3 separate regions of the Homo sapiens genome follow, and regions 1 and 2 are each linked to region 3. The links come from fine-mapping of genetic effects on gene expression. A gene starts in region 3. Each other region holds a variant in brackets. All regions are shown on one strand. Distances are between the middles of the regions. Region 1 holds the start of ATG9B (autophagy related 9B). Region 2 overlaps AGAP3 (ArfGAP with GTPase domain, ankyrin repeat and PH domain 3). Region 3 holds the start of AGAP3 (ArfGAP with GTPase domain, ankyrin repeat and PH domain 3).

Evidence for each region.
Region 1: its variant is fine-mapped to the expression of AGAP3 in whole blood (INTERVAL, PIP above 0.99).
Region 2: its variant is fine-mapped to the expression of AGAP3 in pancreas (GTEx, PIP above 0.99).

Annotation. Positions count from the first base shown.
Region 1 is chr7:151,023,245-151,031,416 of GRCh38, forward strand. It overlaps ATG9B (autophagy related 9B), which reads right to left and starts at 1,250. Exons shown (of 14, transcript NM_001317056.2): 1 at 630-1,250; 2 at 443-486; 3 at 201-265. The coding sequence starts at 1,179. It overlaps ABCB8 (ATP binding cassette subfamily B member 8), which reads left to right and starts at 5,206. Exons shown (of 16, transcript NM_007188.5): 1 at 5,206-5,366. The coding sequence starts at 5,272. LOC124901777 (a long non-coding RNA gene) reads right to left here and starts at 5,014. Exons shown (of 3, transcript XR_007060593.1): 1 at 4,719-5,014; 2 at 3,563-3,768; 3 at 1,751-1,789. RefSeq lists enhancers at 2,161-2,765, 3,371-3,974, 3,975-4,579, 5,185-5,789, 5,229-5,538 and 1 more. The variant G/C (reference allele first, on the strand shown) is at 3,765.
Region 2 is chr7:151,106,977-151,115,148 of GRCh38, forward strand. All of the region lies in intron 1 of AGAP3 (ArfGAP with GTPase domain, ankyrin repeat and PH domain 3), which reads left to right. Among named protein-coding and RNA genes, the nearest start is that of AGAP3, 25 kb to the left of the region's middle. RefSeq lists an enhancer at 1,202-1,864. The variant C/A (reference allele first, on the strand shown) is at 5,101.
Region 3 is chr7:151,083,298-151,091,469 of GRCh38, forward strand. AGAP3 (ArfGAP with GTPase domain, ankyrin repeat and PH domain 3) reads left to right here and starts at 3,178. Exons shown (of 18, transcript NM_031946.7): 1 at 3,178-3,775. The coding sequence starts at 3,445. TMUB1 (transmembrane and ubiquitin like domain containing 1) reads right to left here and starts at 196. Exons shown (of 3, transcript NM_001136044.2): 1 at 137-196. It overlaps LOC124901778 (a long non-coding RNA gene), which reads left to right and starts at 5,706. Exons shown (of 2, transcript XR_007060595.1): 1 at 5,706-6,868. RefSeq lists silencers at 1-349, 2,898-3,147, 3,198-3,287, 3,654-3,723, 4,084-4,353 and enhancers at 4,574-4,733, 6,231-6,741, 6,742-7,251, 7,377-7,882, 7,883-8,172.

The sequences.
Region 1 (8,172 bases), 60 kb before region 3:
ATCAGGGACAGCCAGGTGGGCTCCTGCCCCAGCCCCCAGAGCAGCCCATGGTTATCCTCCCTGACCCTGCCCCTGCTGAGCCCTTGGGCTGCTCGGGAAAGCATGGGATGGAAGCAGCTGGCACAATTAAGGAAGCAAAATGACAGAAGGAAGCCATGGGCCCAGGGGACCGAGTTCCGGGCCCGGGCTAAGCGTCTCACCCCAGCTGGAAGACATCCTCCAGCAAGATGCAGGCAAAGCCATTCCGCTGGTGGTAGCTGTAGATGTGGCTGCGTGTCAAGGAACAAGCCTGAGGCACGGGGGGCCTCTCCTGAGGACACCTCCCCTCAGCCCCAACAAGTCTCCCACCCATGACGCCCTCACGGAGTCTCCCTGCCAAGAACAGTGCCAGCTCCAAGAGGACCTTCCCATGCCACCTCTGCAGGCCTAGCGCAAAGGATATCTTGGTGAAGAAACTGTCCAGGTTCTGGATGTGATGCCAGGAGCCTGGGCACAGAGGGGAGAGTGTCAGCCCCTGGCATGTGATCAATTCTCCACGTTCTCAACCCGCTGCCAGAGGCCCAGCCTGGGATAAGTACTGGAGCTCCCAGGCACCACTAACCCTCTCCCACCCACACCCACACACATACCTCGGAGCCCTTCAGGGACATGAAGCAGGGGTTGCTGCTCCTCCCCGTGGATGGGTGAGTCTTGGGACCCCTCAGGGTCACAGTCCTCCAGCCGCTCATAATCCTGTTCAGGGATCAAAGGGCCTACCCGCAGCCCAGGAGAGTCCTGGGGGCACTGCTGTGAGGGAGTGGGGGTTGCCGGGGCCAGGGGTGGGGTGGAGTGGGATCCCCAGGAGGGAGATGCAGAGGCAGGTGTCATTGCAGGTTGAGCCTGTGTTGGGGGGGTGGCTGGGATAGGGAGAGCACTGTGGCAAGACTGAGAAGCCCCTGTCCCCTGTAGCACTGAGCAAGGGGGCCCTGCGGTGGGAGGGGAAAATGAGGAGGGGGAGCTTCTTGTATGAGGGGCAGGGGACAGAGAGAAGATGGAGATCCTCCCTCCCCCAGGTCCCCGGCATGAAGGAGGAGGAGGAGGTGGCAGTGGCATGGGGAGGAGGGGCACCGATCCGGGCCCCAGATCTCCCCACCGCCCCAGCCGCCTTCTTCTCCCCCCCCAGCCCATTCGGCTCACCATCAGGCCACGGCTTCTCCAGAAAGGTTGGAAGGATGGGAGCTGTTGTTGCTTCCACAAAGGTCTGTGACACTGAGCTGGGACTTCAACAGGAACAATGACAACAACATTACTAGGTGACTCAGCCTAGGCAGGCCTCAGGCGTCCCAGCTCTCAGTCACCTGTCTGATCACTCACACCCCTTCCAGGGCAACCTGAGGCCAAATCCCTCAGGGCCTGAGAGGGGCATCAGTTTAAGAGGAGGGGCCAAAGAGCACATTGAGATGAGAAGATTCCTATTATCTCCATCTTCAGACCTTGAATGAATGAAAGATAAAAAGAACAGCAGCCAAAATGACAAAAGCAAAAAGCAAAATCGTGTTAGAGCCAGGTGTGGTGATGTGTGCTTGTGTTCCTAGCTACTCAAGAGACTGAGGTGGGAGGATGGCTTGGTGCAGGTTACACTGGAACAGTATAGGTTACAGTGAGCTAGATCCTGCCCCCTGCCACCCCCCCCAAAAACATCCTATTAAAGGATTGTAGCAGGGCGCAGTACCTCACACTTGTAATCAATCTCAGCACTTTGGGAAGCCGAGGAAAGAGGATTGCTTGAGGCCAGGAGTTCAAGACCAGCCTGGGGAACAGAATGAGAAGACTCCATCTCTACAACAAATCTTAGGACCAAGATGTTAACTATTTCATTTCTTAAGAGTGTACCTCCCCCACTTCCCTCCACACACACACTACAGTGATCAACAGAGAAATGTTTTGTGACCAAAACAGAAAAGAAGAAGTAAAGGGGCCAGGCATGTTGGCTTACACCCGTAATCCCAGGACTTTGGGAGGCCCGGGCGAGAGGATCACTTGAGGCCAGGAGTTCGAGACCAGCCTGAGCAACTTAGGGAAACACCATCTCTACAAAATCTAAAAAACAAACAAAATAATTTTTTTTCTTTTTGAGGCAGTCTCACTCTGTCACCCAGACTGGAGTATAGTGGCACAATCTCGGCTCACTGCAACCTCCGCCTCCCAAGTTCAAGTGATTCTTCTGCTTCAGCCTCCTGAGTAGCTGAGACTACAGGTGTGTGCCACCACACCCAGCTAATTTTTTGTATTTTTAGTAGAGATGGGGTTTCACCATGTTGGCCAGGCTGGTCTTGAACTCCTGACCTCGTGATCCACCCGCCTTGGCCTCCCAAAGTGCTGGCATTACAGGCGTGAGCCACTGCGCCTGGTCAAAAATAAATTTTTTAAAAAGAATAAGAAAAGGTTGCATGTTTTATTGGTCTGAGGTGCTAAGGAAGAGAAGAGGGGAGGCTGACTTTGCAGCCAAGTTGGGGAAAACTAAGAAGAGGAGGTGAAGAAAGGAAAGGCAGCTATCTTGGATTTGAGAGTTGGTTTGGAGAACTTAGAGTAGAAAATTGGGGTTCTCTGAAAGTTCCATTCCGTTTGCATCCTTATCATTTTCAACTGTGACATTCTCTCAAGTCCGGATCCCACTTCTGGGACCCCCTGAAAAGCATCAGGGCTGAATCAGAAGGGAGGACAGCTGTGAGTCTGGGACTTGGAAGGATAATTTGGATACCCAGGGAGGAGCTGAACTGAGTTCCTTGTTGTCACCTCAACAAGGAGGAGGAGACCCAGGCAGCTGGTCTGGTGGCTTGCCCAACGCCATTCTTGAGGCCCTGAATCACCAGGTTTCCTTCTAAAGCCCATTACTGAGATACTGACTCAGCCACCAGGTGTCAAGGTCTCTAGGGCTTAGGCCTAAGGGCTGATGTTGGGGCCAGTACCCCTGAAATGGCGATATGGACACTGTGCTTCCCAGATTGTTCACTGGAGGCAATCATGGAATCACCCACAAAACTTGAATCCAGATGTGCCTGATTTTCTCCTTCTGTGTGGGGTATTGTAGTAGTAGCTCAGGTCTTGCATGCCTTTATCTCAGAGTAGGAGGCAGAGCTATGAAAACAAGACCCTGTCCTTCTAGAGGTAGCAAAATGGAATCCCACATTGCAGAGGGGCCAGGAAATTCCCATAATCTTTCTGAGACATCTGTCAAGATGGGTTATGTGGGGTGTTGTCTAGTCTCTCCCCCACCTCACTCGCCCAATGTCACTCAGTATCGTGGCTATTCCACCATAGTCACAATAGGACCCCCCCATACACCAAGAGCTCCCCAGCTCAACCCCAAACTAATCCTGGGACATTGTCCTACCTAGTTTCACCCTGAATTCATTCTCATTGACAGCCTCCCTACCACCACTCCCAATTCAAGTCGATTTATTTTAAAGGGCACTTTTCCTTGCCAAGCATTTGGAAGGGAAGAGGACAGATGAATAAAACAGAGCCACTACCCAAGAAGCTGCAGCCCAGTGGGGAGACAAATACGCAAACAAGTAATTACAGGGAAGAAACGAGTGGTGCAAACTCTTTGGCAGGAGCCTGAGGCAAGTCATTCTGACCCGGGTGAGGAAGGTATCTGCGAGGCAGACAGATCTGAGGCCGCGCCTTGATAAATTACAGGCCCTCCATACCAATAGTTCTCAATGGCTGAGGCGTAGGGCAAGAGTGTCAGAATCACCGGGGGAGTTCTTCCCCAAGTACAC[G/C]TGACTGTGGGGAAAAGAAAGAGAGATCAGATTGTTCCTGTGTCTGTGTAGAAAGAAGTAGACATAGGAGACTCCATTTTGTTCTGTACTAAGAAAAATTCTTCTGCCTTGAGATGCTGTTGATCTGTAACCCTACCCCCAACCCTGTGCTCCCTGAAACATGTGCTGTGTCAACTCAGGGTTAAATGGATTAAGGGCTGTGCACGGTGTGCTTTGTTAAACAAATTCTTGAAGGCAGCATGCTTCTTAAGAGTCATCACCACTCCCTAATCTCAAACCACTCCCTAATCTCAAGTACCCAGACACAAAACACTGAGGAAGGCTGCAGGGACCTCTGCCTAGGAAAGCTAGGTATTGTCCAAGGTTTCTCCCCATGTGATGAAATATGGCCTCGTGGGAAGGGAAAGACCTGACCGTCCCCCAGCCCGACACCCATAAAGGGTCTGTACTGAGGAGGATTAGTAAAAGAGGAAGGAATGCCTCTTTGCAGTTGAGATAAAAGAAAGGCTTCTGTCTCCTGCTCGTCCCTGGGCAATGGAAATGTCTCGGTGTAAAGCCTATCTCTACTGAGATAGGGGAAAACCGCCTTAGGGCTGGAGGTGGGACAGGCTGGCAGCAATACTGCTTCTTAAGGCATTGTGATGTTTATGTGTATGCACATCAAAAGCACAGCATTTTTTTTTTTACCTTGTTTACGATGCAGAGACGTTTGTTCACGTGTTTACCTTCTGACCTTCTCTCCACTATTATCCTATTATCCTGCCATACCCGATAATGATCAATAAATACTAAGGGAACTCAGAGGCTGGTGCCGGCGTGGATCTTCCGTAAACTGAACTCCGGTCTCCTGGGCCCATTTTTCTTTCTCTATACTTTGTCTCTCTGTCTCTTTCTTTTCCAAGTCTCTCCTTCCACCTAATGAGAAACGCCCACAGGTGTGGAGGGGCAACCCACCCCTTCACGTGACAGATGTCCCAGCAGTTCTGACGCACCTAGGAGAGCGGGGTGGGTGGCAGGGCATATGTACGTGTTTTGAAAAAACTCCCAGTCGATTTTTGTTCATTCCTCCCCCAAAACCCGCGTTCTACACGCCCTTGAGACGACGGGACATCTAGAGATCCTGGAGCCTTGGGAAAATGGCCCGAGGTCGGCGGCTGACGCGTTACTATGGATACTCCATAGCTTGGAGGGCCAGTCGGGCCACACCCTTTGGACGTCACCCGGAGCCCACAGGAGCACCTGGCAAAAGCCAGGCCCACTTCCTGCTCGGCTCCGCCCAGAGCAGGGGGCGGGCGGATAGGCGATTCCCTCCAATCACAGTTCCAAAAGGAGGGGGCTGACAACATATCCTCCAATCACAGCTTGAAGTGAGATTGATGTGTCTTTTCACCAATCACCGCCAAGGCGCGAGGGGGTTGTCGGGATGGGGGCGGGAGCCAACATAGAGCCCTCAGTGGGATGAGGGTGAAACTGCTATTGCCGGCGGCTCCTGTTTTACCGCGTCAGCATGCTGGTGCATTTATTTCGGGTCGGGATTCGGGGTGGCCCATTCCCAGGCAGGCTGCTACCGCCCCTCCGCTTCCAGACATTCTCAGCTGTCAGGTAAAAACGGAAAAACCTACTCAGAGCGGGCCATTGACCGCCCGGCAGGGCAGTGCCGGCCCGCCGGGAGATGGAGTCCACGAGCTTGCGCGAGGCTTGCTGGGAGCTGTAGGCCAGGCCTACCGGGGTGGAATGTCACTCCGCGGGTGTTGGCCTCAATTATTTATAGTGACACTCCAGTCGCCAGCAGGAGGCTCCTGCGTCTGCAGCCGCGTGTCAGCCAGAAGGAGGGGACGCTCGGGGTCAGTGACCACGCCCAGTCCGCACTCCCGACCGGGGGTCCCCTTTCCTGGCCCTGGAGGTGATTGCGCGATTTGGACGAAAATTCTTATTAGTATGAAGAGACATTTAATGTAGTGGTGCTTCCAGGATTCAAAGTGAGTCGAAGAAGAACTAGAGATGTTCAGCAGGGATAAAGAGCCAATCTAATAGGCCGGGCGCGGTGGCTCGCTCCTGTAATCCCAGCACTTTGGAAGGCCAGGAGTTCGAGACCAGCCTGGCCAACATGGCAAAACCTCGTCTCTACTAAAAAATACAAAAATTTGCCGTGATTGGTGGCACGCGCCTGTAATTCCAACTACTTGGAAGGCTGGGGCAGGAGAATCGCTTCAACCCGGGAGGCGGAGGTTGCAGTGAGCTGAGATCATGGCCACTGCACTCCAGCCCGGGTGATAGAGTGAGACTCTGCCTCAGAAAAAAAAAAAAAAGAGTCAATCTAGTAACTTGTACATGTGTGTTTTTCGCAAAACACTCTACACAGGTTGGTCGAGAGAGAGAGACAGACAGACAGACAGATGGGAAACAAACAAGGACCCTGAAACTACAACTCGAATGTAAATGCTTTATGAGAAGGGACTGATTCCTTTTTTTTTCTTTTCTTTTCTTTTCTTTTCTTTTCTTTTTTTTTTTTTTTTGAGACAGAGTCTCGCTCTGTCACCCAGGCTGGAGTGCAGTGGCATGGTCTCGACTGACTGCAACCTCTGCCTCCTGGGTTCAAGCAATTCTCATGCTTCAGCCACCCAAGTAGCTGGGATTACAGATGTGCACCACACCCGGCTAATGTTTGTATTTTTAGTAGAGACGGGGTTTCATCATATTGGTGGGCAGACTGGTCTTCAACTCCTGACCTCGGGTGATCTGCCTGCCTCGGCCTCCCAAAGTGCTGGGATTACAGGCATGAGCCACCTCACCTGGCCATCCTTTCTAATCCTAGAGTGAATTACTTGGGGGCCAAACAGATAGAAGATTCCCAAGGGCAGGTGGATGTGGAGTTGTGTCATTTGGAAAGCCCATCTGACTGATGGAGGGCAAGAGCTGGATCGAGCTGGAGCTGGAAGTCTTGGTACTGGGAAGTAATCCACATGCTCTTGGCAACGACCAAGACTTTCTTAGAGTCTTAGTTTGGAGACAATGCAAGAAGCTGGAAAAAGACCATGCTAAATTATTGAAAGGTTTAAAAACAGTTCTTAGGAAAGAGTAAGGGTGTTGATGTTATTTAAACCAGAGAGAAACCCAAGGAAAGACATAAAATAATATTCAAGTATATATGTGTTCATTAGTCAGTATTTTTCAATAGATTATGAAATGCATTTAGTTGGTCAGGACCATTTAAAAGTAAATATAGGCTGGGCACGGTGGCTCACGCCTGTAATCCCAGCACTTTGGGAGGCCAAGGCAGGCGATCACCTGAGGTCAGAAGTTTAAGACCAGCCTGGCCAACGTGGTGAAACCCCGTCTCTGCTAAAAATACAAAAATTAGCCAGGCGTGGTTGCACGCACCTGTAGTCCCAGCTACTCGGGAGGCTGAGGCAGGAGAATTGCTCAAACCTGGGAGGCAGAGGTTGCAGTGAGCCGAGATTGTGCCATTGCGCTCCAGCATGACAGAGCAAGACTCCGTCTCAAATAAATAAATAAAAGTAAATGTAGGCCAGGCACAGTGGCTCACACCTGTAATCCCAGCACTTTGGGGGGCCAAGGCAGGCAGATCACTTGAGGTCAGGAGTTCAAGACCAGCCCGGCCAACATGGTGAAACCCCATACAAAACTTAGCCGGGTGCGTTGGCTCACGCCTGTAATCCCAGCACTTTGAGGGGCCGGGGCAGGCAGATCACTTGAGGTCAGGAGTTCAAGACCAGCCTAGCCAACATGGTGAAGCCCTGTCTGTACTAAAAATACAAAAATTAACCAGGCATGGTGGTGGGCGCCTGTAGTCCCAGCTACTCGAGAGGCTGAGGCAGGAGAATCGCTTGAACCTGGGAGGTGGAGGTTGCAGTCAGCCAGCATAGCACCACTGCTCTCCAGCCGGGGCAAAAGAGTGAGACCCTGTCTTGAAAAGAAAAGAAAAGAATCAGAATACATGTTAAGAATTAGAGAAAATGTTATTTTGTGAAGCATTTCCATTTTGTGTGGCATGTATGTGTTCATTGTACTGGGTTGCAAGTAAGATATGTTTCTTGCTGTAGGCCACAGTAAGTCTAAACATTTGCAAAACCCTGTAGTAGTTAGGTCAGATTGTCCTGCACCTCTAATGAGGGCATGCATGTGCTCAACAAGCATAAACATTTGCGGAACATCTATTATGTACCGGAGTTCTGCCAGTGCTGTCTAAGATATAATTTCCTGCCTTTCAGAAACACATGGCGTAATGGGAAAACTGGACAGTTACACAAGGCAGAAGGAGAGTAAGCGTCTCTATCTTTCTAATAGAAACAAGAACACAGTGGAAAACAAGACATAAAAACCTGGCAGTTGGAATGGGGTGGGAGAAGGCCTCATGTAGGCAAAAGGCACAGGCCTTCCTGAAAGC
Region 2 (8,172 bases), 24 kb after region 3:
TGCAATGATTTGAACACTTTATTGCATCTTCTGTTTATAAAAATATTTTGCGGCCGGGCGTGGTGGCTCACGCCTGTAATCCCAGCACTTTGGGGGGCCAAGGGAGGTAGATCACCTGAGGTCAGGAGCTCGAGACCAGCCTGGCCAACATGGTGAAACCCCGTCTCTACTAAAAATACAAAATTTAGCCGGATGTGGTGGCACGCACCTGTAATCCCAGCTACTCGGGAGGCTGAGGCAGGAGAATCACTTGAACCCGGGAGGCGGAGGTTGTAGTGAGCTGAGATCGTGCCATTGCACTCCAGCCTGGGCGACAAGAGCAAGACTCCGGCTCAAAAAAAAAAAAAAAAAGTTTTTGCTTTTGGGGCCAGGCACGATGGCTCATGCCTGTAATCCCAGTACTTTGGGAGGCCAAGGCAGGCAGATTGCTTGAGCTCAGGAGTTGGGAGGCCAGCCTGGGCAACATGGTGAAAGCGGTCTCTACAAAAAAAATACTAAACCTAGCTGGGCGAGGTGGCACACCTGTAGTCCCAGCTACTTAGGAGGCTGAGGCGGGAGGATCGATTGAGCCCAGGAGGTCAAGGCTGCAGTGAGCTGTGATGGCGCCATTGCACTCCAGCCTGGGTGACAAAATGAGACCGTCTCAAAAAAATTTTTTTTTTTTTACTTTTGTAAAAAATACAAAGGCAAGTGGAAGGGATGGTGCTGCTGACAGGGAATGAATCTCATACTTGGAATGCATTTTAGAGGCTCATTGGGTTGGAAGAGGCAGAACTCTAGCTCATGGGACTGCAGCTGGCCTGCCTGTTCAGAGAGAACCACATTTTTAAATGTCGAAAGTGTAGGCGATGGGTCAGTTATGAGAAAAAGGTGCAACACGGCATAGAGCCGTACGATGCTTCATATTCTGAGTCTGGAGCCCCCACCGTCCCACCCTGTGGTGGTGGCCCACCTCCTGCCCCCACCCTTCAGGCCATGGGAGGGCTGGAGATGCTGTGAGGTGTAGGATCCTCTGGCACGGCACCGGCCCATGCGGGGGGTGCAGCACATGCTGGTCGCGTTCCTCTCCAGGGAGGAGCTGCTAGAAAGCAGAGCTAAGCCCACAGTTGCTGTTGCTGGTCAGAGCTGGAGTGGCGTCACGGGCACTTCCAGGGTCTTAGAACATGGCCAGATGGGACAAAGCCAGGAGGCCAGATGGGGGACATGCTAAGGGACCGAGTCTTCGAGGGGAGGGCCTTTGTCCTGTCCACCATTGCACCCAGCACAGAGCTCATGGATAGACAGGAAAACAAACTGCTCTCAAGTACCATCTGTAGTACTACAATACCGCCATGTCACCGGCCTGGTGTCGAAAGGCCATTTTCGGCTGGAATGACAGCCACTCCCACCCCCACCCTGGGGTAATCTCAGTTTCCCTGCTCCTTGCACTGCTCTCGGTCCTGTGGCTCTCTCTGCCACCCGCACCCCCACCAGCACCTCTGCCGCCTTCTCTCCCTCAGCTTTTCCCTGGGGAGGAGAGGACCAAAGTCACTGGGGAGCTCTCAGACCGACATCCTGACCTCTGGAGATGGGGCAGAATCCCCGGGCCTCAGAGCAGCCTTCGGAGGGTCCCAAGGATGTAGGCTGGGTCCTACGCCAGTCCAGACTGCCAGCCGCGTCACCTTGAGGCAGGGTGGGGCAGAGACTTCAGTCTGCTTGCCCTGAATGCACTTAGTAAGCACTCAAAAAATAATGTGAAATGATGACTTAGAGGCCCAAGCTCCAGCCTGGGATTCTGGAGTCCTGGGCCCTGCCCAGGCTCTGTCACTGCTGGGCTGTGTAACTGCAGGCAAGTGACTTCCCCTCTCTGGGTGTCAATGCCCTCATCTCTAAAAGGAGAGGATGAACCAGAACACGAGTTCTGAACCTGGAACCCATGGCAGGGATTAAGGGGACTCGGACCTCCTCAGAAAACACCTGTGTGTTCTTCCCAGTATGCACTAGCTTTTCTGGAGAGCTCATAGCTTCCTAGGGCTGTGGTAATAAACCATTGTAAACAGGGTGGTTTGAAACAACCTAAGTCTGTTCCTAGCTGGCTGCGGTGGCCCATGCCTGTAATCCCAGCACTTTGGAAGGTCAAGGCCAGTTGATCACTTGAGCCCAGGAGTTCTAGACCAGCATAGGCAGCATAGTGAGACTCCCACCTCTGTAAAAAAAAAAAAAAACAAAAAACAAAAAACAAAGAAAACAAAGAAAAAATAGCTGGACATGGTGTTGCATGCCTAAAGTCCCAGCTACTTGGGAGGCCGAGGCAGGAGGATTGCTTGAGCTTAGGAAGTCGAGGCTGCAGTGAGCTGTGATTGCCTGGTTAACAGAGGGAGACCCTGTCTCAAAAACCAAAAAGTTTACTGTGTCACAGTTGTGGAGGCCAGATGTCTGAGATAAAGGTGTGGGCAAGGCCACGCCCCCTCTGAAGGCACTAGGGAGAGATCCGCCCCACACCTCTCTTCCTGGCTTGTCGATGCCGTCTTCTCCCTGCATCTCTTCACATTGACTTCCCTTGGTGTCTGTCGACATGCCCAAATTCCCCCCTTTTATAAGGACACGAGTCAGATTGGATTCAGGGCCCACCCTACTCAAGTATGACCTCATCTTAATTACATCTGCAACAACCCTATTTCCAAATAAGGTCACATTCTGAGGTCCTGGGGGTTAGGACTCAGGGCTCTCCAGGGTCCTCCGTATCTCTGAGGTCTCTTAGAGGGGAGATGGAGGGACCAGCCCAGGAATCAAAGCCAAGCTGAGGGGGAGCTGCTAAGGTTTCATGGGCTGACTGCATCTGCCTGGCTTTCTGATGTGGAGAGGGCTGGTTTCAGTGATCCCAGCGTCCACTCTGGCTCTCCCTTGCGCAATAGGAGCAGCTCCTTCTGTTGCTTGCCCGCTGCACGCCAGGCACCATGCGGCCCTCCATGCTCACAGGGCTGGCCTGCACAGCACCTTTAGCTGGAAGCTGGGCCATTCCTAATTTACAGACAGACCTGAGGTTAAGGAGACCGTGGCTGGTCACCCACCAATAGGTGCCAGAGGCTGAACTTGAATCCAGCTTTCTCAACTCCAGGGTGCGCCGTGCCTTTCAACTTGGGGCCTGTGCAGATTATTTTGCCTGTGCCTGTGACTTCTCTCAAAAGACTGGCCCAGCCAGGGCCCATCTCTCTTAGGCCTTCCTCCCCACAAAGAGGCCAAAAGCCCTGGGAGCACAGTGCATGCTCAGCAAAGACTTCCACTCATTCACTCGGGGAATCATGGCCACCTTCATGTGCCTGGCAGAGTTCTGTTGTGGGGGCACTTGCTGACAGTGGCAAGTGTTAGATGATGTTAGCATGGTCACTGAGATGGTCAGCCTCCCAAGGAAGGGATGCTTCAGCCACGGTCCAAATGCCTTCAGGGACAAGCAGGGCAGAGGCCCGGGAGGTGTCAAGGCTGGATGGGGATGGAGGCGGGTCCTGGGGAGGGTGTCAGGTGAGAGCAAGCAGGTAGTCAGGAGCACACGGGGCACTGGAACAGAATAAGGGGATTGGGTGCCATTCTACGCCAGCTGGAGAGCCATTGCAGGGCTTTGCTGAGAGGTGACCAGGTTCTGGTCTGAAGAGGTCCGCCCCAGCTGTAAAGGAAATCACTTGGCAGTGGTGGTGATGGAGGCTGGAGATGGGAGACCCCTAGGAAGCTGATGTGGTGCTTAGGCCCGGGAGGATGGTGGCTTGCCTTTGAGTTGAAGAAAGGAGCTGGTGATGGATCTGGGCCACATTTAGGAGGGAGCGCCACCAGGACTGACACGGATTGGGCTGGGGGAGTGGTAAGGAAGGGAATGGAGGGTGTTACTAGCAGGCTTTTGGCTTGTGCGGCTCCAGAGCTCATGTGGTGCTGTTGAAAATGGGGGATGCTGGAATGGAGCTGTTAGGGGTGGAATTTAGGTCCATGGCTGCTGCTGCAGCAACTCGAGTTGTCTCGGGACAGCTGCTGGGACACTTAGGGAGGACTGTGGCCCCACTGGGGAGGCATCCTGAGCGCTCTCCCCCCGCCCCCCGTCTTCTCCTCTGATTCCCTAAGCTCCAACTTGGAGAGCCTGCTGGACACCAGCCAGTCCTGGGGGGCGAAGGGGTCTTGGTGTGGCCCCCACTGCCTCCCGGGCTCAGTGGCGGGTGTGTGGCCAGCCCTAGCATCCTGCCAGCCTTCCCAGCCACTGCCTCAGCCCCGGCTGCAGGAAGATGTTTTGCTGCCACCTTGTGGGCAAGAAGGGCCTGACTGTTTGGGAGGGCCACGGTGGTTCTGGGACCACACCTGGCTGCTGGTGGTTCTGCTCCACACCCTGCGGAGCTGGCCACAAGCTCCGGCTTTCAGGAGAAGGCTTATCCATCCTCCCTCATCTCCTCGAAAGAAATCTGCCAACTCCCTGTGGGCCACGTGGGCTGCAGCGGGCACAGCCAGGGCTCACCAGTGGATCAAGCAACACACACCTGGAGGCGACCAGTTCCCACATCCTCAGGACCAGCTTTCTCTTTCTGGCAGGGTCTCACACCTCACACCTGCCCAGGGGTGTTCTCTCTCCCCGTCATGACCCCCCCGGCCCCTCACCCCCCTGTGCACACGCAAGCAGGGCACCCGAGGCCCAGGCCAGCACAGAAACTGGGCATAACTAGAGTCGGCTTCTCCTCCTGACATCCAGGTAGTCCACAGAAGGGGGTCTTGAGCCCGGCTTCTGCGCTCTCTGGCTCCGGGGCAGGCTGTGTTCGTCCTGCCCCAGGATGCACACTGCGGGCATTTGTGAGAGATTTCCTCTTAGTCCCCCAGAAACTGCCATGGAGCCTCTCAGCCCCTGAGAGTCACATTCAGTCCAGCGTTTCCGGTGGCCTTAATAAACAGAGAACTGACGTGAGGGCTTGTGTTGTGGGATTTCAGTACTGTTCGTGTAGTCCCAGCCTGGAGCTTTTTAGGTTTGTCCTAATTTCCTTCGGGCCCAGTAGGTAGTGGCTGTCTGTGTCGAGCACAGCTGTGTTTGCTGCGTGTCTTTGGAGCAGAATCTTATCAGGCACAACAGAGACCTTATCTCTGACCCTGGGCTGA[C/A]CCAATGAGCAAAAGAGGTGTGTGCCTGCAGCTGTTCTCCTTTTCGGGGTCTTTGACTGGCTTGATGTCCTGAGACATTTATGTGGGAGCAGGTGCCCTTCCCTGTCTAGTTTCTCCGGGTCAGGAAAGTTTTCTGGGGAAAAGGACTGGGAAGGAGAGGGCAGCCAGGTGAGGAAGAGAAAGCTGTTCTGGGTTTGGGAGTTGACCCAGGTGGCACTTTCTCCTTGGACTGATTCTGCAGGTGCAGTGGGACTACATGTCTTCTGAGACTGTAAGATGTTCTTTTGGGGACTGGGATTGCTGCCTGCCTTCCCCGAGACGTGTGTGTGTGTGTGTGTGTGTGTGTGTGTGTGTGTGTGTCCAGCATGTGTGCAGCTGGGGCCTTAACCCCCTTCTTTCCCATCCTACTGTTCTCCCACTGAAAGAGGCAGCTAGGTTCTAAAGTGATCCATCCCCTGTCGGATACCGTGTCCCCATCCCCTCTCCGTCTCCAGAGGTCGGCTCCCATAGCTGCTGTCCTGTGCTTGCTTCTTATTTATTGAGACAGGGTCTCACTCTGTGGCCCAGGCTGGAATGCAGTGGCTCCATCTTGGCTCACGGCAACCTGGACCCTCTGGGCTCAAGCGATCCTCCCACGTCAGCCTCTCAAGTAGCTGGGACCACAGGCTCGTGCCACCATGCCTGGCTAATTTTTCATATTTTTTTTGTAGAGACGGGGTTTCACCATGTTGCCCAGGCTGGTCTCCAACTCCTGGACTCAAGTGATCTGCCTGCCTCGGCCTCCCAAAGCGCTGGGATTACAGGCGCGAGACACGGTGCCTAATTTTTTGTATTTTTAGTAGAGATGGGGTTTCACTACGTTGGCCAGGCTGGTCTCGGACTCCTGACCTCAGGTGATCCGCCTGCCTCAGCCTCCCAAAGTGTTGGGATTACAGGTGTGAGCCACCGCGCCCGACCCTTTGCTTGCATTTTCACTGGCTTGCAGGATGAGCTTGTGAGTGGGCAGCCTTATTCTTTGGCAGAACAGCCATTCCCTGTTGTGCGTGAGAGAGAGGGCAGATACACGTAGATAGGGAAGTCAAGGCAGAATGTGTTTCCTTTTGATCTGCAGCTCAGTGACGTTGGCCGGCTTCACTGAGTTGTGTTCTTGTCTCTGTACCTGCCTGGGGACCTGGGAAGGGCCCCTCTGCTGGTACTTCCATTGTGGGGGGAACATGCATCCCATACAGGAAGAAGCCGTCTTCACCAACGCTAATAACTAGTCCCACGGAAATACAAACTCACCACCAGGGCCTCTCCAGGCCTGGGAGATCCAGCCCAGGACTTGGGAATTTCCAGCGCTCTTTTCTGCAGGGAGCACCTAGGATGGAGAGGCCCTGCCTTCCTTAGGCATTCCCACTCAGCCCCTCAGGAATGTGCCACTTGTATCTCCCACTTGGCTCTGACCAGGTCCATGGAATTCTAAAGCTGAAAGGGACGCTGGGAGTTGGGCTGGACTGGGGGTGGAGGAAAGTGGGCAGTATTGTCTTTTTAAAGGAAATGCAAGCCCCTGGTCCCTTGCCACTACTTAAACTGGTTTCTCCTGATCCGTGGCTGGTATTGAGGCAGCCAGTGGTTTCTGACTTTATGGATGACCGGAAACTGGCTGGGCTTCAGAGCCTGGGAGAGGACTGATGTTTACAATGCAGTGTCAATCACAGCCGGGGAGCTCTTGCCTCCAATTCTGGGTGAGCTCTGGGTTTACTGGGTGTCCAGGCAGCCCACAGTCATGAATTGGAAGGGCCTCGGAGCTTGGAGGAGTGTTTTCATTTACAGAACGTCAGGCTGGAGCCAGTACCGCAGGCTACCACTTGATCTCAGCCCATCATCCCGACAGGAGGTGAGACCCAGTGAGCAGCAGGGGCCTGGAGAGGTCCGGGCCTCAGAAGTGAGTCACTCACCCAGAACTGCAGCGGAGGTTATCTTTGACTTCTCTGCTGCCCTTAGGCAGGACGCTTAACTCAGTCCAGACAGATGAGTATCTTCTGGATTTTATAATCTCCAAAGAAGACAGCCTCAGTCATCAACAGAAACCGACTGTAGCAGCCAGCAACTCTCGACCTCAGAATGTCAGAGCCGAAACTAAGACAGGACCACCTCGTTGAAGCTCGCGTGCTGCAGACGAGGACACGCGCGCAGACCCGGCATGGCTGCCTCTGACGTCTCACTCAGGCTTGTCATACTTCTGGGCCTCATGTTCTTGGCTCTTCTGGCTCTTCCTTTGAAGAATGAGAAATGGCCCGCTTTTCTCCAAAATGGGGCCCAGTGTGTGGTGGACTGAGGACTGTTATTTAGTTGGCCTGCTCGTAATGACAGCTCCTCACCTACCTGCCGGATCCTAGGAGGCGCCCTGGGCTGGAATTTCCTGTTTTCGAGGGCTCCCAGGGGCTGCCCCAGCAGGCCGGCTCCCCCGCGCCGCGCCGCCGTTCCCGGGCGTTCCAGGCCAGACTTGCCGCCTCTCTCTCCGGGCTGGGCTGACTCCCGGCCTCTCCAGGTCTGGGCTTGCCGGCCGCGAGGTGGAGGAGTTGAGGGACTCGGTCGGCCCACACCAGGTGCCCAGAGGCCGGAGGTCCGTGCGCCCCGGCCGCGGCCCCGGCCCGGGCCCAGCCCCGTGCCCCTCGCCATGGGCCTGGCCCGCGCCCGCCGGCCCTGAGCATGGAGCGGGGCTGGCCGCAGGGGGACAGCTGTCCCGGGGAGCGGCCCGCCGCTTGCCGCCGCGCCCACAGCGTCTGCGACTCGCTGGACCTGCACGGCGCCTCGGCCGGCCGCGCTGCCGCCGCCCTGCAGGCCGCCCTCTGCGCCGCCAGTGAGCAGCCGGCGCGGCCGCGGAGCGTGTGCTCGGGCGGCCCGGAGCCGCCGCCCACCGGCGCCCGCGGCCTTTTGCTCGGCCTCCTGCGCCCGCGCCTCGGCCGCCGGGGCCTGGCGCCCTCGGGACCGCCCGTCTCGCCTGCGCCCAGCCCCGCGTCCAGCCCCGCGCCGACCCGGCGCAGCCGCACCCGCGGGGAGCCGACTCCGCGGCCCCGGCCGGCCAGC
Region 3 (8,172 bases):
CTTCACGTTCCCCACCCCCACCTCTCATCACCCCTCCCACCTTCCCGCCCCCCGAAGCCGCAGGAGGGCACGGCGATCCCGGCCCGACCGGGGCCCTGGGCGGCGGGGTGGGCGCGGTCACGGCGCGGGGACTCACCGCCCGGCTCCCCCAGCTCCATCGCGGCCCCTCGGGCACTTCCGGGCGGGAGGCGCGGAGGTCGCAGGCACCTGAAGCACCCCTCCTTCCCCGCCGCCGCGGCCCGGGGCATTGTGGAACTTGTAGTCCGGCGCCGCGCTGTCCCCGCCCTCCGCCCTGCGGACCCACGTGTGGGGCTCCACCCGCGGTTCTCTGCGCCTGCAGATCGCGAAGGGGCTGGCGGGGGCGGTTTTGGGGGTTGTGCTACCCCCTAGAGGTTTGGGCGGCAGCAGCGTCCGCCCCCTCCCCTGCCAACAGCCAGGGCATCTATCACACCAGACACCGACGTCAGCTGGAGCACGTCAGAGTACCCGTGTTCGTGATGCAGTGTGGAAGGCTCTGAGGAACTCAGGTGGCCCCTACTGTTATGTCAGAGTGGACGCCAGAAGGCACTTTGGCCACCAAAATTAATTCTTCAGCCCAGAGCCCAATATCCATGGGCTGCCCCACCAGGCTGGCTAGGGATACCCATCCTCAGGGCTGCCCCTTTCCTTGGTCCCCTCCTCCACCTTCGGGACTCCACAGCCCCTTCAGGGCTGTGGAAGAAGCATAGACCTTGGAACCTGGCAGAAATCCTGATCCCTTATCTTGTGCTTCTCAGCTATATGACCTTGGGTGGGTTATTGAATCTCTCTGAACATTAATTTCTTCCTCTCTAAAACACACCTCGTAAGTCAATCATAAGGAAGAAATTAGATGTTTTATTAAAAAGTGTAAAAACTAAGGTACATGTCACACAGTAGCTATTCGCTCACCTCCACCCAAACCTGGTCTCAGGAGTCGGGTCTTTGGTGTGTTACTGTGTGGATGGCATTGAATCCCAGGCCTGTGGATATCTGGATTTTTCCCTCTGGGCTCCTGTAGCCACAGAGATCTCACATCCTGGTTTTTACAGGCCAGTCTTGATTTAAAATAATCTATCCTAGTCTTCCCATGGTTCTTGCCTACTGTGGGAGCAAGTGGCCCAAATATTGCCTTAGGAATGTCAGTCTAGATTGATACCATACAGAACTAACCTACCTCTAGTTCCATCCCTCCTGTTCATTCATTTATTCTACTAACATATTTTTTAAAAGATGTACTATGGCCAGGCGCAGTGGCTCACGCCTGTAATCCTGGCACTTTGGGAGCCAAGGCAGGCGGATCACTGAGTTCGAGACCAGCCTGGCCAACATGGTAAAACCCTGTCTCTACAAAAAAAAATACAAAAATTAGCTGGGCGTGGTGGCGGGCGCCTGTAATCCCAGCTACTCGGGAGGCTGAGGCAGGAGAATCATTTGAATGCGGGAGGTGGAGGTTGCAGTGAGCTGAGATCGAGTCACTGCACTCCAGCCTGGGTGACAGAGTGAGACTCCGTCTCAAAAAAAATTACACACACACACACACACACACACACACACACACACACACACACTATATCCCAGGCATTGTGCAAGATACTGGGAATAAAATGGTGAATCAGACCCTCTTCCTGCCCTCATGTGGCTCCATATACTAGTAGAAGAGCTAGACGTGTGAACAGCCCAACAGTGCTATAACACGTGTGTGCTAGTTGCTGGGGCAACACATTTGAGGAGCTCTTTGCTCTTAGTGTCTCTCTTGGGAGGTATACCTGGTGCTACTTCCTGCTGTCAATTCTAATTAAGCACCTAAAAGAGATGTTGGATGTTACTTTTAGAATTATACAACATCAGAACTAGGTTTTATGTTCAACCACTATATTTCGCAGATGAAACCCAGAGAGGGCACAAGATATCCTTAAGCTTATGCAGGGAGATAGAAACACAGGTTCCTCAGGAGCTTAGGAGACCCTGTGTGTTGATTAGCTTGCACCAGGTGCTTTGGAAGGTACAAGGAACTCGGGAATAGTGACTGGGTTGGTTCTGGGGCTGAGTTGTGTGGGTAATCAAACAGTGGACAGCTTCATGCTGGGAAAAGATCCAGCTTGGCCAGGGAAGTGGAAGTGTGCGTAAGAAGGACGATGTGTGTCACTGATGCCCTAGGATATCTGGGGGTAGCAGATACCCTGCAACATCTCTGGCAGATTTATTGGCTGCGGCCTCTGCAAATGTCACCTCTTGTAGGTTTTAGGAAACGTGTGTGTGTTGGTGGGGGGGAGGGGGCTAACAGAACTGCAGCCCACTTTGGCAATGGGACTGCAGAGGAACTGGGACATTTCAGGGAGCTCCCTGGCCCTAGAGGGAGTGAAAGGACAGGATGGACAAGGGGTGAGGACAAGAAAAATTGAGAGCCACGTGGGCTTTGGTTGGTCTCTCCAATGGGATGAGTAGGGGAGAAAGGCATATACTATTTCATCCCTCCCTCTTCTTCCTCTATGTACCAATGGGGTCGGGTAGCATTTAGCTAATCTCCCAAGTCCGGCAGGGGGAGGGTCTTTTAGGAGAGCACTGCTGCAGCCGGCAGTGGAGAGCCTGGGCAGGGAGACAGGGAGAAAACTCCGGCAGCAGGGTGGTCTCTAGGGCTGACCTCGGAGCCTGGGGACAGGGGAGCCTATGCCGCACTGAAGGCGGGACGCTGTAAGCGAGGAGCAGCTGGGCCTGGGCGGACTCCTCGGCCAATCAGCCTCGGTCAGCAGCACCCTCAGGCGCAGGGCACTGTTTGGGCATTGCCTAGAGATCCGACACCCCGCCCAGATCAGCGCAGGGAGGCGAAAGCGACAGCCGGGCGCGGGAGGAGACCAGGGCAGCTGTCCCCTCCGCGAGGGTGGCCCTCGAGGCAATGCGGGTGGGGGCTGGTGAGGAGGCGGAAGGGCCGAGGCTGAGTGGGAGGGGCCGGGGCGCCAGGGCTGGAGCGCGCGGCTCGGGGGTGGAGGCTGCAGAGCCAGCGAGCGAGCGAGGGGCGGGGGCGCCCGGGCCGGCGCGCAGGAGGGGCGGGGGCGGCGGGGAGGGGGGCTCGGGCTGCGTGTGCCGGAGCCGGCGGGGGCGGCGGTGCGTGCGCATGACGCGGGGGGAGGGCCTGGGCCGCGCGCTCCCGGTCCCGTTGTTGTTGCCGCTGGAGGCTGCTCCGAGGCAGCGGGATCACGGCGCTGGGAAGCGCTCGGCAGCGGCGGCCACAGCGTGCGCGGCGGCGCCTCCTGGCCTCGGCCTCCGGCCCCCGGCCCCCGGCTCCATGCGCTAGCCCCGCGCCGCCAGCCCAGTAGTCCCGGCCCCGCCAGCCCCGCGCTCCCGCTCGCCGCTGCCGCCGCCGCCGCCGCCGCCGCCTCCGCCGCGCCGCCCCGGGCCCGCCTCGGGCCCCACGGCTCCGAAGCCATGAACTTCCAGGCGGGCGGGGGGCAGAGCCCGCAGCAGCAGCAGAGCCTGGCGGCTCCGGGGGGCGGCGGCGCTGCCGCGCAGCAGCTCGTCTGCGGCGGGCAGTTCGGCGGCGCGGGGCCCGGGGCCGGGGGCGGCGGCGGCCCCTCGCAGCAGCTGGCCGGCGGGCCCCCCCAGCAGTTCGCGCTCTCCAACTCCGCGGCCATCCGGGCCGAGATCCAGCGCTTCGAGTCCGTGCATCCCAATATCTACGCCATCTACGACCTGATCGAGCGCATCGAGGATTTGGCGCTGCAGAACCAGATCCGGGAGCACGTCATCTCCATCGAGGGTGAGCGGAGCCGGGGGCTGCGGGAGCCGGGGCGCAGTGGCCTCTCCGGCGCCGGCCGAGGGCTCCACAGGCCGTGCCTGGCCATGCTCTCCCTGTCGGGGGTCCTTGCGCGCTTGAGGACCAGGCCACGAGGTTTGCCGATCTGTGTTGCAGAACCGGCGGGCAGCTTCGCCATATCTCGTTCGGGGACACTTTGGGGTTGGGGGTTTTCTGCTGACTGTGTTCCAGGGCGCGAAGGTGGTGTCGCTTGGGGGGGCCGGGACCAGATCTGTCCAGGCCTGGCCGGGGAAGGTGGGCGCGGCAGAGGGCTTCAGCTGCGGGGAGGTGGGGTCGTGACCGGGGAGGCTTCTTAGCCGCTGCCCGGGCCCTGCTCCGCAGTGGGGCGGGGGATCGGAGCCTCGCGTTAGTGGATGGCAGCCTTCCCGGGCCCAGCGCCCGCAGGCCCGGAGGGTGGCGCTCGCCGCGGCGCCCTCTCCCGACGCACACCCCCTACGCCGCGGCGGCCAAGCGGGAGCGGGCCGGGCCTGGCGCTGGGCTGAGGCTCAGCGACCGCGTGGGAGGCGCCGGCAGGTCCATCCGCGCTTTGGCCGGGTCATGAGCCTGACGGGGATCCGCGGCTCCTCGGTCTGGAGGCAGCTGCTGGGCAGCCGGGTGCTGACCGACCGCCAGGGACACCGCACCCGGAGTCGGGGACCGGAAACCCCCGGCCACTGCGCTGCCTAGCGCTTTTTTCTCTGGGCCCTTAGGCCCTGGACTTTCGACCGCTGAGGGCACAGGAAGTGGTGGCACGCTGCTGGCAGATGCCTCGCAAGCCCTGGTGTGGTGGGTGCTGGAGGCACCCGCAGGCACCCCGGTGGCATGGTGACCTTCGAGCGGGCACGGACAGATGGGCCTCACCCTGGGCCATCTGCTTCCTCCCCCAGCTCTGTTTGAAAGGGGACGCCCACCGGCAGGTGGTGGGTTTGGCCTCAGTGGAAATGCAGTGAGAGCCAAGGCCTTTTGCGATAACATGGAGTTATGGGCAGGGGCCTGTCCCTGACTTGGGCCTTAAGGTTAGGGCCCCACTCCCAGCTTCATCTGCTTGCCTGAGGTTCTGGGGGATAGTGCACCTGAACACCTCCCTTTCTGCTTTCAGAGGTCCCCATAGCCGGGGAAGAAGTACTGGGTCTGGGGGGACCCCATGTGGTGCTGGGTTCTATCTTTTGTTGTGACATGCCAGTCTGACTTCCTTCTGCCTTTTCCCAACCCGTTCTTATTTCTTTCCTCTCAAGGCTGAGTTCTCTGTGAACTAATTAGGTGACAGAAAAAACTCATTAACGTGGATCTGAGTAAATGGCCTGAATCACCGCTGTGGCTGGGGACTAGGAGATGGCATTTGTGCGAGCCCTGGGCCCCAAAGACAGGAGATGACCAATTTTTCCTCTTAGATCTGAAGAGGGTGGAGGCGGGAGAGACATCGTTGCTGCAGCTTCACTGTCCTTGGAGGAAGTAAAGACATTCCTGATTTGCTCCAAGCTTACCTTCCCCCAGCTCCTTCTGGAGGGCGACAAGCCTCGTGGGCCGGCCACAGGAGGGTGGGGGCACATCTGCTTCCGAGCTTTTCCCAGAGCAGGGAGAGGTTTCCGGGCTCCCCTGGCTCCAGCTTGATGAGCAGCGACCCCTCCTCCCCAGCTCAGGGGAGCCTCTGGTTGAGCATCTTTTGTGATGTGAAGGCTGATTCCTGGGGCGCCCTTGAGTTTTTTTTGCCTGATCTTAAATTTAACACAACAGGCAGAATTTCCCCTCCTAGAGCCCTCCCCTGACCGACTTCTCCATTGCGGTTTGGAAATACCCCATGGTTCCGTCTACTAGGCCTGGAAGCTCGGCCTCACCCTCGTGAAATCCCGGGAGCCGGTGTCTCACTGTCACCAGACCGACCCAGCCGCGGCTCACACATCCGTTCTCAGCCCTGCTGTTCCCACTCCTGGGCCCTGCTGCCCTGCTGCCCTGCTGTCCCTCCCTCCCCCCTGCCCAGCCTCTCCTGGCACCGTCATCTTTATCCACCTCACCCGTCTTGCGTTCCCACTTTTCTGCTGTAGGCAGTCTTCAAAAGAAAAAAAAAACCACTCCTTCTCCAGTTTCTGCCCTATATCCTTCCTGCGATAGAACTCCTCTCCATCTGCCAAACCATATTGCTTCTGTCCTGCGAAGCGGTGTCCCCACCTTCTTTCTGCGAGGAGGGAGAGGCGCAGACTCCCTGGGCGTTTCCGAGCACAGTCTGAGGCTGGACTGAGACCCAGCCCTCCACCCCCAGCCCCAGGGCGGAACAGACCTAGGCTGTTACATAAACACAGTGTCAGCTGGGAGCCGGGTCCTGTGTTTCCTGGGGCTAAGCCTCTCGGTGGAAAGGGGCGGCAGTTCCGAGTGTATAACAAAGCCTCCCTCACTCTGTTTAGACTTCGGTGAAGGGTTTGTTTGTCCCAGCTCTGAAGGTGACGTGGGACCTGCGGTCAGGATCCATCTGGCTCTGAGGAAGTGCAGTGGGCACTTGGGCCTCCTGTAGTCTCTGCCACTCACAGTCACTTCTGACCCCGTGTCCAGGACAGGAGGAAGCAGGGGATGTTTGGCTTTCCTGTGTTTCAGGACAGGATTTGAGGAGAGGGAGACCATTTTGAAAAGTTCCTTTCCCACCAGAGGCCAAGGAAAGAGAAAACCTGCCCATTACTTGGCCTTAGGGAGTGGAAGAAGTACAGCCTTCAGCTGGGAGGGAGAGCTGGAGGGCTCACTATGTGCAGAGCCTCTGAGCCACCTTCACCTCACTAGTGGGGAAACTGAGGCTCAGAGAAGGGAGGGAGCCAAGCGGATACAGCCAGGGAGAGTATAGGCCTTCAACAGGAGCCCGCTTCCGGCTTGGCACTCACCTGCAGTGAGCGCTCCCTGACAGCTTGGGTTTCCTGGCTGAGTCCTAGAAAGAGGGATGCAGGAGAACGAGGGCCTCAGTCCAAATGGGGACACTGGGCACGTGGAGCGCAGGATGTTGTACCAAGCTAGCCAGGAGCCCCAAAGGAGCCCGGGATCTTTCCAGGACCTGCTGGTCCCAGTCGTTGTGTGCAGGTGAGGGCCCGGCACAGGGGAGGAGCAGGGGCTTGGGGAGGGCCTGGGATCCCTGCTGGCAGTTCCCAGATGGGGGGGGGGGGCTCCCGCCTGGAAGTGGAAGTGGACCTGACTATTAGGTGTGTGTGCCATATGGCTACTATTATGTGTGCCGGAGCTGGGCTTTGTCAGCTGGGTGACTTACTCAGGTTTCTCCATCGTTTTCCCACTAGGGCTTTTTTTTTTTTTTTTTTTTTTTTTAAACAGTTACTTCGAGCATTCCAGCCGGCCTGGCCTGGCCAGCAGAGCGTTCTCACTGTCACCCTTACCCCACTCACTTTCATTCAGTTCACAGATTGCCTGCCCTGGGCTGTGGGCTTGGTGACATCCTAAAGGGACTAAGGTAAAGAGATGTGGGGGTTTCTTGTTTGGGTCAAGCCTCAGCTAGACAGAGAAGGGGCCACAGCTGTGACTGCAGTTGGGTGGCAGCTCAGAGGGAGAGTAAGACGGTGCATGTGGCCGGGTACAGTGGCTCACGCCTGTAATCCCAACATTTTGGGAGACCAAGGCGGGCGGATCACGAGGTCAGGAGATCGAGACCATCCTGGTTAACATGGTGAAACCCCCGTCTCTACTAAAAATACGAAAAATTAGCCGGGCGTGGTGGCGGGCACCTGTAGTCCCAGCTACTCGGGAGGCTGAGGCAGGAGAATGGTGTGAATCTGGGAGGCAGAGCTTGCAGTGAGCTGAGATCGCACCACTGCACTCCAGCCTGGGCAACAGAGCAAGACTCCGTCTCAAAAAAAAACAAAAACAAAACAAAACAAAACGGCATACGCCCTGGCATCCCACAGCCCTCAGCCCTTAGGCACACCTGGGGTTTTAGTGTTTGTGTCTGTTTCTGTTCGTCCTGTGACTTGATCCTGGAGGACTGGCATGATGGTCCCCATGTTTGTGCCAGGGTGCTCTCTTGAGCTTTCCTTACTGTTCCTGGGTGGGCACTCCCTGGCCGGGCCCTGCATTCCGCCGTGGGCCCTGCTGCACCACACACTGCTGAGGTTCCCTTCAAAGATGAGGACTGGGGGGGTCTGGGATGGGTGCCGGGGACATGCATCTGGAGCCAGCCCAGGCCCCTCTGGCAATTCGTTGGTTTAGGGACTGAGTGTCTCATGGGGGCCTGGTTGCTTATGCAGGACTTTGCTCGCAAGAGTTCTAGCAATTCTGAAAAAGAGCATAACCATGTGGGTGCTAGTAGCCAGGGAAAGCTTCATTTGTTCCAGATACATTCATTTAGCTCCTACTGTGCGGCCCAGTTGCATCTAGCA